Linked DNA regions of Homo sapiens: region 1 is linked to region 2. Evidence: fine-mapped expression QTL. A gene starts in region 2. The other region holds a variant in brackets. All regions are shown on one strand. Distances are between the middles of the regions.

Evidence for each region.
Region 1: its variant is fine-mapped to the expression of AGTR1 in lung (TOPMed, PIP above 0.99).

Annotation. Positions count from the first base shown.
Region 1 is chr3:148,654,206-148,662,551 of GRCh38, forward strand. No RefSeq gene overlaps it. Among named protein-coding and RNA genes, the nearest start is that of AGTR1, 40 kb to the right of the region's middle. The variant T/C (reference allele first, on the strand shown) is at 4,603.
Region 2 is chr3:148,693,085-148,701,430 of GRCh38, forward strand. It overlaps AGTR1 (angiotensin II receptor type 1), which reads left to right and starts at 4,819. Exons shown (of 3, transcript NM_000685.5): 1 at 4,819-5,043. It also overlaps the pseudogene RPL38P1.

The sequences.
Region 1 (8,346 bases), 39 kb before region 2:
TTCTGACGTCTTAATATAATTTATGGGAAGCCCATAATTAAGTCCAATTCTGAATTGTCGCTTCTTTTTTTTGTCAAATTTTATTGTAGATTTGGGGGTACATGTGCACATTTGCTACGTGGGTAAATTGCACGTTGCAAAGATTTGGTGTGCAAATTATTTCATCATCCACCTACTGGGCATAGTACCCAGTAATAGATAGTTTTTCAACCCTCAACCTCCTACCACCCTCCCCTGTCAAAGAGGCCCCGGTGTCCACTGTTGCCATGTATACGTAATGTTAAGCTCCCACTTATAAGTGAGAACATGTGGTATTTGGTTTTCTGTTTCTACATTAATTCCCTTGAGTTAATGGTCTCCAGCTGCATCCACGTTGCTGCAAAGAACAAAATGTCATCCTTTTTATGGCTGCATAGTATTCCATTGTGTATACGTACCATATTTTCTTTATCCAGTCTGCTGTTGATGGGCACCTATATTGATTCCATGTCTTTGTTATTATGAATAGGGGTGTGATAAACATGCAAATGCATGTGACTTTCTGGTAGAATAATTTGTTTTCTTTTTAATATTTACCCAGTAATGAGTTTGCTGGGACAAATGGTAGTTCTGTTTTTCCTTTGAGAAATTTCCAAACTGCTTTCCACAGTGGCTGAACTAATTTACACCCTCACTAACAGCGTATAAGGAGTCCCTTTTTTCTGGAACCTCGCCAGCATCTGTTGTTTTTTGAATTTTTAATAATAACAGTTCTGACTGGTGTGAGGTGGTATCTCACGGTGGTTTTGATTGCATTTCTTTCATGATTAGTGATGTTGAGCATTTTTTTTTTTTTTTTTGAGATGGAGTCTCACTCTGTCACAGGCTGGAGTGCAGTGGTACAGTCTCAGCTCACTGCAACCTCCGTCTCCCAGGTTCAAGCAATTCTCCTGCCTCAGCCTCCTGAATAGCTGGGACTACAGGTGTGCACCATCATGCCCAGCTAATTTTTGTATTTTTAGCAGAGATGGGGTTTCACCATATTGGCCAGGATGGTCTCAATCTCTTGACCTCATGATCTTCCCACCTCAGCCTCCCAAAGTGCTGGGATTACAGGTGTGAGCCACCATGCCAGGCCTGAGCCACCAACCCCAGCCGAGCATTCTTTTATGTGGTTGTTGGCCACATATGTGTCTTCTTTTGAGAATTGTCTGCTCATGTTCTTTGCCCGTTTTTTAATGGGCTGTTTGGGGTTTTTGGCTTTTTGATTTGTTTAGATTTCTTATAGATTCTGCATATTAGAACTTGTCAGATGCAGAATTTGCAAATATTTTCTCCCATTCTGTAGGTTGTCTGTTTACTCTGTTGTTAGTTTCCCTTGCTGCACAGTATGCTTTAGTTTTAGGTTTCTAAATAGACAAACAATTTAGGTTTCTAAATAGACAAATAATTAATTTGTCTAGTTTTGTTTTTGTTGGCAATTGCTTCTGAAGACTTCTTGTCATGAAGTATTTGTCAAGGCCTGTGTCCAAAATGGTATTTCCTAGGTTGTTTTCTAGGGCTTTTATAGTTTTAAGTCTTAGATTTAAGTCTTTAACCCACTACTAGCTGATTTTTGTATATGGTGAAAGGAAGGGGCCCAGTTTCAATCTTCTGCATATGCCTAGCCAGTTATCTCAGAACCATTTATTGAATAGCATGTTATTTCCCCACTGCTTATTATGAATTTTCTCAAAGATCAGATGGTTGTAGGTATGTGGCTTTATTTCTGGGTCCTCTAACCTGTTCCATTGGTCTATGTGTCTGTTTTTTGTACCAGTACCATGCTGTTTTAGTTACTGTAGCCTTGTAGTATAGTTTGAGGTGAGGTAGTGTGATTCCTCTGGTGTTGTTCTGTTTGGTTAGATTGCTTTGGCTACTTGGCTCTTTTTTGGTTTGATATGAATTTTAGAATTTTTTTTCTAATTCTGTGAAAAATGACATTGGTAGTTTTTTAGGAATAGTATAGAATTTGCAAATTGCTTTGGGCAGAATGGCCTTATAACAATATTGATTCTTCCTATCCATGAGCATGAAATGCTTTTCCATTTGTTTGTGTCATCTCTACTTTCTTTCAGCAGTGTTTTATAATTCGTGCCATGGAGATCTTTCACCTACCTATTTAGCTCTATTCCCAGATATTTTATTCTTTTTGTGGCTGCTAAATTGTCACTTCCGAGGGACTAGGAGCCCAGAGATATTTTAATGTTTAATTTCACTTCTCATACTCACCTAGACTTATAGATGGTGCTCAATATGCATTTGTTGAATCTAATAAATTAGATTAGAAACCAGTTCTCTTAAAAGTGAAAACTTTTCTTGTATTTTACCCAAATTTCCCCTCAATGACATTTGGGTCTATACCTGCTCATGTGTCCAATCAATTCAGAATCTCATTATTCAAGAAAAGACCTCAGTTTTGTACTGTCAAAAGAAAAGATGTGTTTGAGATAATGTTCTTCAGTTTAAAAAAATTAAAGTTGTTAATAATTAATGTGTTCAAATCATTTTATCAGATATATGTGTATACGATATGATAGCATATAGTATATATATGTATATATATGCATTATCACTTAGGATATGTAGCTGCAGTATATTTTTAGCTTTGGAAGACAGGACTACTTGTAAGAAATTGTGAGAATTAACAAACAAATGGCTCAAAATATCATACACATATGAAAATTCCTAAAGGGAGAAAACTCTCCATTGGCAAAATATGTCTTGGGGAAATTATGGTTTTTTTCTTCCCCTGTAAAATCTTTGAAGCCATGGAAAATTCCAAACAACAGGTGAGAAAACTAAAAAGTAGCCACTTTACTACCATAAGAAGATATTGATGAAAGGTAGTAACGTCAGCATACACTTCAACATTATCAGCAAGGAAACTTTTTTCCCAAGAAATAATAGAAATAGAGATGAAGAAGGGTTATGTTATAAATCATATTTTGAATTGTGAATTTTTTCAGGTGACTAGACTGAAGGGTAGAAGATGCTAAGCCATTTGCCATTTAATCCATTTCATTTAAAGGATCACTAGCTATATTTAATGACATCCAAAAATAAACTCTTCAGATGCTGAAATACTAGACTGGGAAGGCAGGCAGGGGAAGCAGGAAGGTTATTCTGGCTTTATTTCATTTTCTTGAAGGGCAAAGGCGGCTTCTCATTCATAAGAAGAAACTGACCTCAAACTGACAGAAGGTACAAAAAAAAAAAACAACTATACCAGGTCTATGGAACTAGAGTTGACAATTGATACCTATCCACAATAGCAGCAAATTATTTCCTTCTACAGAAATTCAAGACAGAATCCCCACCTCTAATGAAGTTGGAAATTGTAATGGTTATTAATTCGTCTAACTAATGTGAAATTGTATATAGCAAAGTACAAGCAGGGCAAGTACTTGATTTCAAGCAAACGGTTCTTAGTGATTGCATAATACACACTTCAAAGGACCTGAGACTCAACAGGATTTATTTCATTGAACACTTTCAACACCTATTGTAATTCAGCCTTTTTATTCAACAGTAGCTCAAGCACGTTAACATTGTCAAACTGCATAAAAACATTAAGTTCCGAAACTTTCTCCTTGTATTTTTTTATCTTGAATTCACATATGATTATCTTTTTTTTCTTCTTGATTTCAGGTACAAAAATGTCCACATAGATATACCTGTCAAAAATCTACCGTTAGTAATTAGGTAGCTACTACACAGTTGGATGGTTTAGCTAGAATCAGTATATGATATTTTTAAAACAATTTTTTAATGAGATATGGCTGTCTCTCTTACAACACTCTGAATATATCCTATTGCATTTTCTCCTTTCTAGAGCCCCTGTATTCTATCTACTGAAATCTCTGGCTTACTCATGTGGAATGCATTCAGCCTTATTGAGGTGGTAGCTGAATGTCAGAATCAGTAATTATCAGTGGGACACAAGATGGAGACATGACCTGCCAAAGAACATCATATTGTATCACTTATAGTACTTTGTCAAGTTGCAAATATAGAGGATCCTCACTGGAGGTTTGGCATTGATCCCCGTGGCAAGGGTGGATGGGAGCGAACAGCACATCTTGCAGGTTGAAAATTAATTCCACTGCGAATATGTGTCAATCCTTAGAAGTGTTGGTATCAAAAAAATGTTGAGAACTACTCTTCTAAATCCCACCCAACCACCCAGAGATATGCTTACAGCTTTGTTTCTCTTCAAGCACCTGGCATATAAGTGCTTAGAAACTACTGTTAAATAAACAAGTAAGTCAATGCATAAATAATTGAAAGTTTTCACATAATCTGAAAGTTTAAACATTTGCTTTACAGTCTAAAATTCCTGAAGTCATCATTGTGGAACAGATGATTTCACAATAAACACTGATCCTAAACAAAATAACATGAGATCTCTATCAGTGAAATAGTAAAATGAACATTAACTATTCGAAGGCTTAACTAAATGAGGACTCAATTTATTCAGACATCCTAACCTTGTTCCCCCAATAGCCATATCTCCCCTCTCCAAGAGGCCGCATTTGTGTACCTTCTCAAGCCATCATTTCTTTGATGGACCCATACTTGCTC[T/C]GGAAAAATCAGGAGCTTCAGGAAGGGTGGAAAGGATAACGATCTTTCTACTATCCATGCTCCCTCTATCAGCCAAGAGTTCCATTCACTTCCTCAGCCCTAATTTCAGACTTTAGTTAAACTGATTAGTGAGAAGTCAGCATGAGTAAAGGAATAAGTAGTTCCCCATGGCTGAGACAGCTAGCTGATCCTTAAACTTGGTGCTCCTCCCTTCCATAATATAAGTGGTTATTGAAAAGTTACTGTCAGTTAGGGTCTACGTTTCCTGACTTTTCTTGCATTTAAGAATGGTCGATGTGACTAGTTCTTGCCGGTGGACTATCAACAGAAGTGAGATGTGTTGCTCCTGTGCTAATAGAGTTTAAACAGAAGAGCCTTCTCCTCACCCCCGCTCTCCTCTTTTGCCAGCTGAATACCAGGGAGACAAAGTCTTAGAGAATAACGGAACCACAAAGTGGAAGAAATCTGGATCCTTGAGTCACTACATGGTGTAGAAGACTGGCACTCACCAGTCAGGAACACTACCACTGGTCTTTTACATGAATAAGAAATAAATTTGTGTTCTGTTAAGTCACTGAAATTTGAGGATGTATTTATGATAGTAGCAACAATTACACTAATGAGTACATTTCTCCACCTATTTACTTGATGCTCCAGTAATAACAACCTACGTGCAATTTCCCGGCTCCACCAGGCAGTTTCATGCCTTCATGTGTTTGCACATGCTGATCCTTCATAATTCTTAATTTTCTCTACCTATTTTCTCTCCTTTCTGGCACTTTTTCCTTCACTGACTCTTACTAATCCTTAAAAACTCAGCTCCTAGGCTTCTGTGAAGCATTACTCTGCCAACAGGCTCCATTCCTGCCATGTACTTTCCTAGTCTGTACATAATTCCACTTTTGCATATGTCACAATATTTTAGGATTCTCGGTTTATAAATATGTCAACCTTACAACATACACATTTGTCATATTTCTACCCTGTAAAGCTTCCAACAGAGTGGTGATACATAAAAGATGATTTATGACTGTATGCTAGGTTCCTATCTCATTAGGATTTTATTTTAAATTAATCTGATCCATGGAGGATTAGAAACTAAGAGTCTGTTAGCCGTTGGAAGATGGTGACAGCAATGAAAGAGAGGAATCCTGGTGTGTGCTGCTAATTACTCTAGAATAACAGCAATGCAAGCTTGCAAATAAAGCAAGGAAAACACGTGCACTTCTATAGGTTAACAATTTCGGCAGAAGTTCAAAGGAAACAGAGATCCTGATGTAGGGGACGAGCCCAATTTTAAGTTTCAACATTTCAACATAAGACTTTGGTTCAACATATGGCTCAACATAAGACCTTTATTGCATGTAGTATTTATATTTTAATATAAATGAATTTTGTTTTAAAGGACATGGTCTATTGTTTTTCAGAAATTTGGGAAGATTAAATGAGTTAATAGACACTGGCACATAATGAGTATTGAATAAATGTTGGATAAATGCACTTATAAAATGATGTTCATGACCAAAACGATAAGTATTTTTTTAAACTGAATCTATGTGGTTTTGTATCATAAGTGCTGACCCAGGTTTTTCATCCTTTATTCCTTTATTTTTTTTAATACTGTACTTTATGCCAAATATTCCTGTCTTGAGGCAGGCTTGGAGGCTGGTATGGTACGTGGGAGTAGAAGATGAGATTCTGTGGGTAGAATCATAAGGTTTTAGGAGGTGAGGGAGCTCATTTACAAACTTCTCTGGGCCTTTCATTTGGTGCAAATTTGAGACAGGTTGTTTTTCAACTTAGAAAAAGAATCGCTCATTGAATTTTTCTTTTAAAATTATATTTTATTATATTTAAAATATATATTATATAAAATATATATTATATTTTATTATATTATATTTAAAATTATATTTTATTCTGCCTACTGGTTTTACACTGGTCCCCATAAAATGTACATTATAAAAAATACAAACCTCATTTGATAAGCCTATTACCTGATGTTCATGGCTGCTAGCTTTATTCTATTGAATTCAAATTTGCCTGTGGCAGTGCTTTGTATCTAATTTGTGACTTTCACAAGGTGAGCCTTGCATCATTTTCCTTTGCCTCTGCTTCCATTTATCTAAATGAAAACAGTTTCTCTTAATGCATAGGTTTGCTTGATAAGCCATTAATACCACAGCTGGGCCTTGAAATGCTCATAAAAAGAAGCATCAAAATAAATATTTATTGTTGTTTCACCCAGACATACAAACCTTGGATATCTTTAATACGGCTGGCTACTTGGTTTCTAGTTTAATACAGCTTATTTACTTGATTTCATTTTCTCAAATAATTGCTATTTCTCTGAAGGTTATTTGAGGGGAAGAGGTGGTTGAAGGAGTGGAATGAATATTGAAATATGTGAGATGGAGGCTGATGGTACATTTAAGTTGATTAGAAGAAGACTGAAATGAAATGAGGGCCAAATGTTTTGCGTGTAAATTCATGAACTTGTACAGAATTTATCAAACTTAGAAAAATATCTGTTAAACACAGCATTTCATAAACACAGCTTAGGAAAAAACAAACAGAGCTCTTAGCTTACTAAATTTCACAGAGAATAATTCTCAAAGGGAAAAACAAATCATGAGGAGGCTTGTGGTATTTTCTTTAGCTTCTATATCTTTTATGATTGGTGCTCAGTATATTTTAAGTCATATTTATATTCCAAATGCCTCTATCATGTGATGAGCAATATTTGCACAGCTTCAAAAATAATCCTTAAGAGCTATTTAAAACATAAATGTCATTAAACAACATGCAATAAAGTTTAAAATTCCTCTCTTGTTGGCAGAACCCTGTGAAGGGCACTTAACTAGGCATATGGTCCCTGAGGGTCCAGAGCTCATGATGTGATGGAAAAAGACATAAGTCCTCATGTTAGGGACACAATGGAGGGAAGTCCACCCACTGTGGACATCAGGGAAGCCTTCGTGGATGATATGGTAACTGAATTGGGTTTAAAGAATGTAGGCATTTATAGGAATTAATGAGCAAAAAGAGGCATAAGGAAAAGGATCCGGCAGAGGGAAAAACATTAACATGAGCATTTCTCAGGTGCGACAGAGCATAATGTGCAAGGAATATTACAGCTCTTTCTATATTACTGAACATTTTTTAACACCCTATTCTTGCTATCATTTAAAGAAATTATTTTAGGAATTACATATTTTTAAGTATTAATTCTTTAGCTAAAGTTTTATTTAGCTAAACCATGATTTTTTTAATACATGTAAGTTTAAGGATGAAAACATGAATGTCCCTTGTTTCAAAAGGCAACTTACTACCTCTATACATGCTTATTTGTATTTGTTACATAAATACTAATGAGGTATCTAATCAATTGTAAAATCTATAAAAGAAAAAGGAACACAGTTGAAAAATATCAGGTTTCTTTTTTACAAATTGATCATAAAAGCTAAGAAAACTTTTTTCCTTGGAAGCATTTTGCTTGGCCTTTTGTAATTAAGAGAGTACTTTAGGTGAGACAAGAATCTTTATTTAAGAGAGTGATGTCTTTAAAGAAAGTTATTTGAAGAGACTGTAAATAAAAGTAAATTTAGTCTATTTAATCTTAGATTTAAGAAATCCCTGGTGCATCATTTGAGCCAAATGAAAATTACCTCCTATAGATTCCTCTAGATATTTCTCTGGAAATAGCATCTCCTAGGAACCAAAAAAGATATGACTAATATTGGG
Region 2 (8,346 bases):
ACCATACTCAGGACTCAGGAACCATGTCTTCCTCAGGTTTGCATTCTGAGAAAGTTCTCCTGCAGAAACCTATGCTTACTACATGCTTGATTATATTTAAGTAAATTTGCCATTTTTAATTTAATGAAAATTCAAAACATGTAAGTCATTTCAACATATGGTATGTTGCTAAATAAAAACCTTTATTTTAAAAATAGGTTTTAATTATTAATAATTTATATTACTTTCCTGATCCACAATGTGGTCTAGCACAGAGGTGTTAGCCATTGCATGAAAGATAGGAACTGAGCCCCTCTTCTCTCTTCAGAAACTTGGAAGCAAGAAACAAAAGTCAGACATTCATGTCTTTACTCATCTACACAAATTTCATATTTTACCTTTTTAAAATAGCTTTACTTATATATACTCTACATACTATACAGTTCACCCATTTAAAGAATTAAGTTTATCCTAAAGCTGCTTCCTTACGTATTTTAAATTTGGCCTAAAAGTTTCTCAGCATGTAGTGAACTGTAACCTAACTGGATGCTGAAAAGACTGAAACCTACTCTTGTGCCAATCACAGAGTTTCAGCATATCTAAGGTGGTCAGTTGTTCAAACTGTGTTCAAATAAGGCAAATGCCAAATTATAACCAATTCTATTTCTGTACCTCATTTTTGTCTTCTTTACATCACTTTCCTTTTTCTGCCCATAAATCTTTTTCAACCACGAGGCAGTGCTGGAGTCTCTCTGAACCTATTGCAGTTCAGTGGCTGCCCGATTTGCACATCACTCTTTGCTCAATTAAGCACTGTTAAATTTAATTTGACTAGGTTTGTCTTTTAACAAAGATGTACAGTTCAATGTTTTTTGTATGTTTTCAAACATACAAAAGTTGTGTAATGATCACCATAATCAAATGTACAATTTTTTATCATCGTCCAATTAGCAGACACTACCATTCCCTCCTACCCCTCCACTCTCAGCCTAGGCAATCAAAATTCTCTACAGTTATGTCACTCCTGAATATTTCATATAAATGAAATCATATAATATGTCTTCTTCTGTGACTGGCTTCTTTCAATTAGCACAAGGTTTTCAAGGCACTTCCATGTGTAACATGTACTTTATTCCCTTTTATTGCCAAACAATATCCTATGGTATGGAGATATCACATTTTATCTATTCATCAGTTGATAGATATTTGACTTATTTCTGCTTTGGGGCTATTATGAATAATGCTGCTATGAATTTTCACGTCTACATTTTTGTGTGGACATATGTTTTCATTTCTAATGAGTATATACCTAGGAATGGAATTGCTGAGCCATATGGTAACTCTATCTATGCTTAGCATTTTGAAGAATTGCCACTGTTTTCCAAAATGGCTGCACTATTTTATATTCCCACCAACAATATATGAGGGATCCAATTTCTCCACATTCTGGACAACACTTGTTACTATCTGACTTTTTGATTATAGCTATCCTAGTAGGCCTAAAATCATAACTAATTGTTCCTTTGAGTTGCATTTTCCTGCTGGCTAATAATGTTGAGTTTTTTTATGTGTTTGTCTACCTTCTTTAGAGAAATGTATATTAAGATCCTTTGACCATTTTTAATGGTGTTTTTATTATCTTTGTGTGTGCTTTATTATCTTTATATGTTCTATACACAAGTCCTTATCAGGTATATAATTTGCAAATATCTTTGCACATTCTTGGCTTTTTCTTTTCACTTTCTTGATACCCTTGGAAGTATAGATGCTGTTAATATTGATGAAATCAAATTAATTTACCTACTTTTTCTTGTATTTCTTATGCTTTTGGAGTTGTATCTAAGATGGCTTTGCATAACCCAAGGTAACAAAGGTTTACTCCTACGTTTTCTATTTAGTTTTATAATTTTTCTCTTAAGCTTGGGTCTATGATCCATTTTGACTTAATTTTTACATGTGGTATTATAAGGAGTCCAACTTCATTCTTCTGCATGCAGATATCCAATTATTCCAGTACCATTTGTAATAAAGATTACTCATTCTGCATTTTTTCAACCCTTTTCAAAATCTAGTGGCTCATAAATGTAAGGGTTTAGTTTGTGGACACAATTCTGTTCCATTGATCTTTCTATCTATTGCTATGCCAGTACCACATTGTCTTGTTTATTGTAATTTTGCAGTAAATTTTGAAATTGGTAAGTTTGTTCTTTTTCAGAATTGTCTTGACTATTCTGGGCCCCTCGCACTGCTACATGTTTTTAGGATAACTCCATTCATTTCTGCAATAAAAGCTTGCTGGGTTTTGATAGAGATTTTGTTTAACCTGTAGATCATTTGAAGATTAATGCCATTGTAACGATATTAAATCTTTCAATCCAAGAACATGGAATGTCATTCCATTTATTTAGGTCTACCTTATTTCAACAATTCTTTTTGTTTGTTTTCAGACTACAAGTTTTAGATCCTTTTGTTAAATTTATTTCTTAGGGTTTTTTTTGTTTTGTTTTGTTTTGTTGGTTGGTTGGTTTGTTTTGAGATGGAGTCTCACTCTGTCACCCAGGCTGGAGTGCAGTGGCACAATCTCAGCTCACAGCAACCTCTACCTCCTGGGTTCAAGCGATTCTTCTGCCTCAGCCTCCTCCTCCTGAGTAGCTGGAACTACAGGCATGCACCACCACGCCTGGCTTTTTTTTTTTTTTTTTCTTTTGCATTTTTAGTAGAGACAGGGTTTCACGATGTTGGCCAGCCTGGTCTCGAATCCCTGACCTTGTGATTCACCCACCTCGGCCTCCCAAAGTGCTGAGATTACAGGAGTGAGCCACTACACCAGGTCATTTCTTAGTATTTTTACTCTTTTGATCTATAGTAAGTAAAATTGTTTTTATCTTTGAATTTTTAAATTTTTAACACAGTTCAAATCAGTGTGTCTGATTTCATCTCCTTCTCTAACAAACCAGGGTGCCAGAACTGCTTCAGTTTCTCTGCCTTCTCTTTGTCTATGATGACTAATGTATGAAGGTATCTGCTGCATCAAACTTTAAACTTCACATTATCCTTATTTCTCTTGACCTTGACAGATCTGGCATCTTTTCACCTGGCTGTAAGCAGAAAGTCCTTGATCTCCTTAACTTTTTGAGGCATGGCAGCATGTGAGGCAGGGAGAGGACACAGACCCACACAGCAAGTGGTGAGAAGCCAACAGTGGAATTGTTTTCTTAATTCCATTTGTTGATTGTTTATTGCTAGTGTATAGAAATACAACTGATTTTTGTATATTGATCTTGTATTCTAAAAACTTGCTCAACTTGTTTCTTAGTTCTAATAGTTAATTAATTGATTCCTTAGGGCTTTTTAATACAAGATCATGTCATCTACAAATAGAAATTGTTTTACTTTCTTTCTAATCTGGATGCCATTTATCTTTTTTTCTTGTCCAATTGCCCTCACTAGAACCTTTAGTACAAAGTTAAATAGAAATGGGAAGACTAGACATTTTGTCTTGTTCCTGATCTTAGACATAAAAACGTTGTCTTCCGTTATTATGTGTGATATTAGTTAAGTTTTTCATAAATAAACTTCACAGTTTGAGGAAGTTCCTATTCCTAGTTTGTTGAGTGTTAGCATGAAAAAGTGTTGAATTTTGTCCAATAGTTTTTAAAAATTTTTTTAGACAATCATGTAGGCTTTGTCCATTTTTTACTTCTTTAAATTTATTTTTATTGATACACAATAGATGTACACTTTTTAGGTACATGCAATAATTTAATGCCCCTCACTATAAATTCGGAGCTGCCTCCTCGCCGATGATTCCAGCGCCTGACAGCCAGGACCCCAGGCAGCAGCGAGTGACAGGACTTTTTAGGTACATGCAATAATTTAATGCATTCATATAAAGATCAAATCAGTGCAATTGGCATATCCATCACCTTAAATATTTGTCTTTTCTTCATGCTAGAAACATTCAAGTTATTTTCTCCTAGCTACTCTGAAATATACAATAGATTACTGTAAACTACAGTCACCCTACTCACCTATCTAACATTAATTGATTTTTGGTAAACTAATCTAATCTTGCTTTCTGGCATCAACCTCACTTGACCATGGTGTATAGTCCCTTTCATATGTTATTGGATTCAATTTGCCTACATTTTGTTGAGAATTTTTATCTATACTCTTAAGAAATATTGATCTGTAGTCTCGTGATGTCTTTATCTGGTTTTGTTATCAGGGTGATACTGGCCTCATAGCATGAGTTGGGAGATCATCCTTACTCTTCTATTTTTTGGAAGAGTTTGTGAAGAATTGATATTATTTCTTCTTTAAATATTTATTGGGTTTTTAAAATACATTTTTAAAATGCAACTTGGGTAGCATGTCCAATAGGAACAAATGAGTGTCCACCCTTGAATTTCATAACCCTGGAATTAATCCATGTAATCTATGATCCACAACTGTATTACCAAAGTTCGAGTTACTCATAGGAAAGAGAAAGAAGTTCTCTAATTCGTCCTTAAAAGTTTTCCAAGTTCAGAAAAAAAAAATGTTGAAGAACACGAATCTCCGCAGGAAATGATACTCCTGTACCCCCAGCTCGCTCTCCCTCACGACCCCTCGCTAGGCGGGGTTCGGGACCAGGTGAACGCTGATCTGATAGTTGACACGGGACGACTGTGGCATCATCCTTGCTGCCGTCAATATCCCGAGAGGGAGGAGGTTGGGCCGGGAGGGTCTCCCGGGGCGGGGCGGAGGAGGAGGGAATGCAAAACAGAGCCTCGTCCCCGGAACCCAAGAAGCAGCAACGCCCCTCACTATAAATTCGGAGCTGCCTCCTCGCCAATGATTCCAGCGCCTGACAGCCAGGACCCCAGGCAGCAGCGAGTGACAGGACGTCTGGACCGGCGCGCCGCTAGCAGCTCTGCCGGGCCGCGGCGGTGATCGATGGGGAGCGGCTGGAGCGGACCCAGCGAGTGAGGGCGCACAGCCGGGACGCCGAGGCGGCGGGCGGGAGACCCGCACCAGCGCAGCCGGCCCTCGGCGGGACGTGACGCAGCGCCCGGGGCGCGGGTGAGTCCGCGCGGACCGCCAGGCATGCTTGGGGGACTTCAAGGGCGGGGTGCTAAGTTTCATGTCACGGTGTCCTAACTGCTGGCTCTATACTGGGAAGCTCTCGGGGACCAAGGAAAGAGCGACCGTAGTTCTGGTCAGCGCCTGCCCCTGGAGCTGGCCACACTTTCCCAAATCAGGTGAGGGGCTTCTGGAATGGGAGGGAACAAGGTAGGTTTGTTTGCCACGTGCCTCGAAATTCTCAATCCATTTTAACCAAACTCTTCCGAGTGCAAGGAAGAAATCTACAGAAATAAGATGCAATTCAATAAACTTTCTTCCTGAGGCTTTTAGTTAACTCTTGTATTTTAGCCATCATCTGAGCGGGAAGCCGGTATGACTCTGCAAGGCGTTCGTTTAAAAGTTGTGCTACTTTTGAGGTGAAGTTAAGAGTGTCTCCATCCACGCCCTCTGCTTCCCAGTCAATGTCCCTGCACTGCTCACGTCCCTTTAGCTCTCTCCCTGCAAACCATAGCGGTGGGTCCTAGACACGGGACATCGCTCCAACCTTGGCCAAACTCTCCCACCCTCAGGGTTCCCAGATGTCCTTTGAATAATCAAACTGAGGAAGGAGAAGCAAGATGTCTCCACACCCCAATCCCTACAGCCTTAGCCAATGCATGTGTGTAACTGAGACAGAATTTTAGCAAAAGGTCTCCTGCTTCCAGGACTAAACAGAGCCTCTGGCAGGCCACTGCCCGACACCCAACTCCATCCTCCAATTTTCTTAAATGTCCAGGTAAACATCTCCATAGTGCCAGCCTGCTATAGTCTCCCGAAGACCTCAGCAATTCTTCCCCAAAGCGTCTCCTTCTGCACCGTTTTTTTCTTTGGGCAACCATTTGTGACCTGGCTATTGAGCCCACCTGGGCCTCTTCTCTTTGTTTGCTGATAGCCTCGTTAAGTATTAAAAACCTACTCCCCCCCTTCAGGAGCCCTCTTTTAATGAAAGTTTGGGTACTGGGATCAGATTTGGGACTTGGCTACATTTATTTCCTGTGTCATTCTGAGAAGAGAAAGTAATAGAGGCAAGAAATTTGGCACCCTATTGATCTATTTTATTACTTTGTTGAGCAACTTGTGCTTCCCGCTGAAGATGCTGCATCCCAACATGATTCTCTTATTATTAGTTACCACCTGAGGGTTTTGGATCTCCAGGTGTTTATTTCACATAGCATATGCTTTAACCCCCTTATAAGTCTTCTCTAAGGAAGAAACTGCCATACTTCCCTTGTCTTCTCCGGTGTTTCCCTAGCTATAAAGGCCCCACCTGCATAACCTGTCCTCAGGCTGTGATGTATTCCCGGGTGCCCTGGTACCTTCTCCTTCCTCTCCACCACCCTTCCTGACAGTGCAGGGGCAGGAAAGCATGGGGAGAAGGGAAATGGAGACTCCCACTTAACTTGCTGTGTGATAGTAAGAGCATTATTTCACAACTCTGAACCTCAAGTCTCTGCCCATAAGGTTCCCTCCAGTGATATAATTCCTTAATTTCTTTTGTTTTGGTTATTGCTTTAAAATAAAAGTCTAAGCTTAAGGCTAGGTTATAGAAACTGCCCATCATAATTGCTAGGTCTCAACATTTGCTTAAGTTTTGTGATTCTTAGTTTCAAGTCTGTTACCCACTCTCTCTCCCCGCCACCTTTTTTCCCCCTGACTTCATTGTTCTTTGTTCCCATCCTGAGGCCTTGATTTCTGGTTCTGCTCTTCTTTGACCTTAAACTGAATCAACTCTTCCATCATCCAACTCAGAATAAAATTGGTTTTCTTCCACCGGTTCCACTGATGCCAATGGAAGACTTGTCTTCCTTGCGATTTGCAAAATGTCTTTCAGTCACAGGTGCTGCGGCAATGCTGCTGTCCCACAGCATTCTAAGCTTCAGTCTTTCTCTCTCTTATCGTGGGTCAGTATTCAGAAAAGGGCAGATTTGTGGGTTGTTCAGGTTTCTCACTTTTCTTTTTCTTCTTTCTAGTTTGGGATCAGAGTTGTGTGAGTATTTGTGTATATAATTTTGTTTTGGTTTTTTGTTCCTGCTGCTACTTACGACTGCTGTTATTATTTCAATTATGACTAATTAATACTAATGACTAATTTTCCCCTATGCTAGAGGGAAAATAAGGAAGAAAAGTTTACTCTGCTACTTACCCAAAGCCCAGGTAAAATGCTTAGCTGAGAAGGAATTTAAAACTCATAGTTTAAATGCATGATGCATGTCTGCTGTCATTTTATCTGTGCTGCCACAGTGTCCTTTCAAGCAGATAACTGAGAGTTGCTGTATTTTGCTTTCGAATTTGTTACAGGGACAAAAATAGTGACCCCTCACATTTAGGTGTTTTGGCTGCTTAATGCGAGCTCCTGCCCTCTAGCCGCATGCTTATTAGTTTACCTAGCCCTTTTTCTGGTCAGTCATGACTGGAGAATGCCAAAGAGTCTCCCAAGTAGGCTACCAAATTAAGAATTGTGTTTAGAAGTTTGAAGTCAGTCCAAGTGTTGTAAAGATTAAAACGTTGTTTTGAAGATATGCTGTGTCAATAAACAAATATGGAGCCAGAGCAACACAATGTGACCAAGTGTCCAAGCCCAGCTTAGGAACACTTTTCTCCCATGTTATCTAGCAAACTGACAAATCAGCTTTCCAACACGTGATGATTGGAAAATGCTATTAGTTTCCTTCAAAATTCTCCTAATGTTTCTTTTTCAAAATTGCCTAAGATCATTGGATTATGTGGTTTGTGTTTCTTTTCACTGTAGCTGCTTGTTAAAGCAGTATACTCAATCTCTGATAAGCAACAGTAAATTTGATCGATTTGTATCCTAAATTTAGCTATCACTTTACATTTTGTTTTATTCATAATATGAACTTTAGCTTCTAAAAATCAACTTTTTAATAGCTTAATATATAAAGCCATCTTAAATCAAGGAATATCTATAGGGACTTAAGGTAATATTCAACTAAATTGGCAAGTGACTACCATTATCCTATTAAAGCTCTAAAATGCAATATTTCAATCACAGAAAAAAAATCTTATAATTTAAAGAACTATAAATTGCCAGATGTTTCCCTAGTTATTACGTTAGTGACAAATTAGACAACTGGAAATAGAAAACAGAGTATATGTTTGGAACAGTCATAAAAGGACTAGTGACTATTGCTGCTAGCTGTGGTTGTATTAACATTAAAATATTTGCTATGGGATTTTTCTTCTTATCAAAGCAGATGCTCAGATGAGGAAAAACTTTCTTGCATATGAAAATCAAAATTG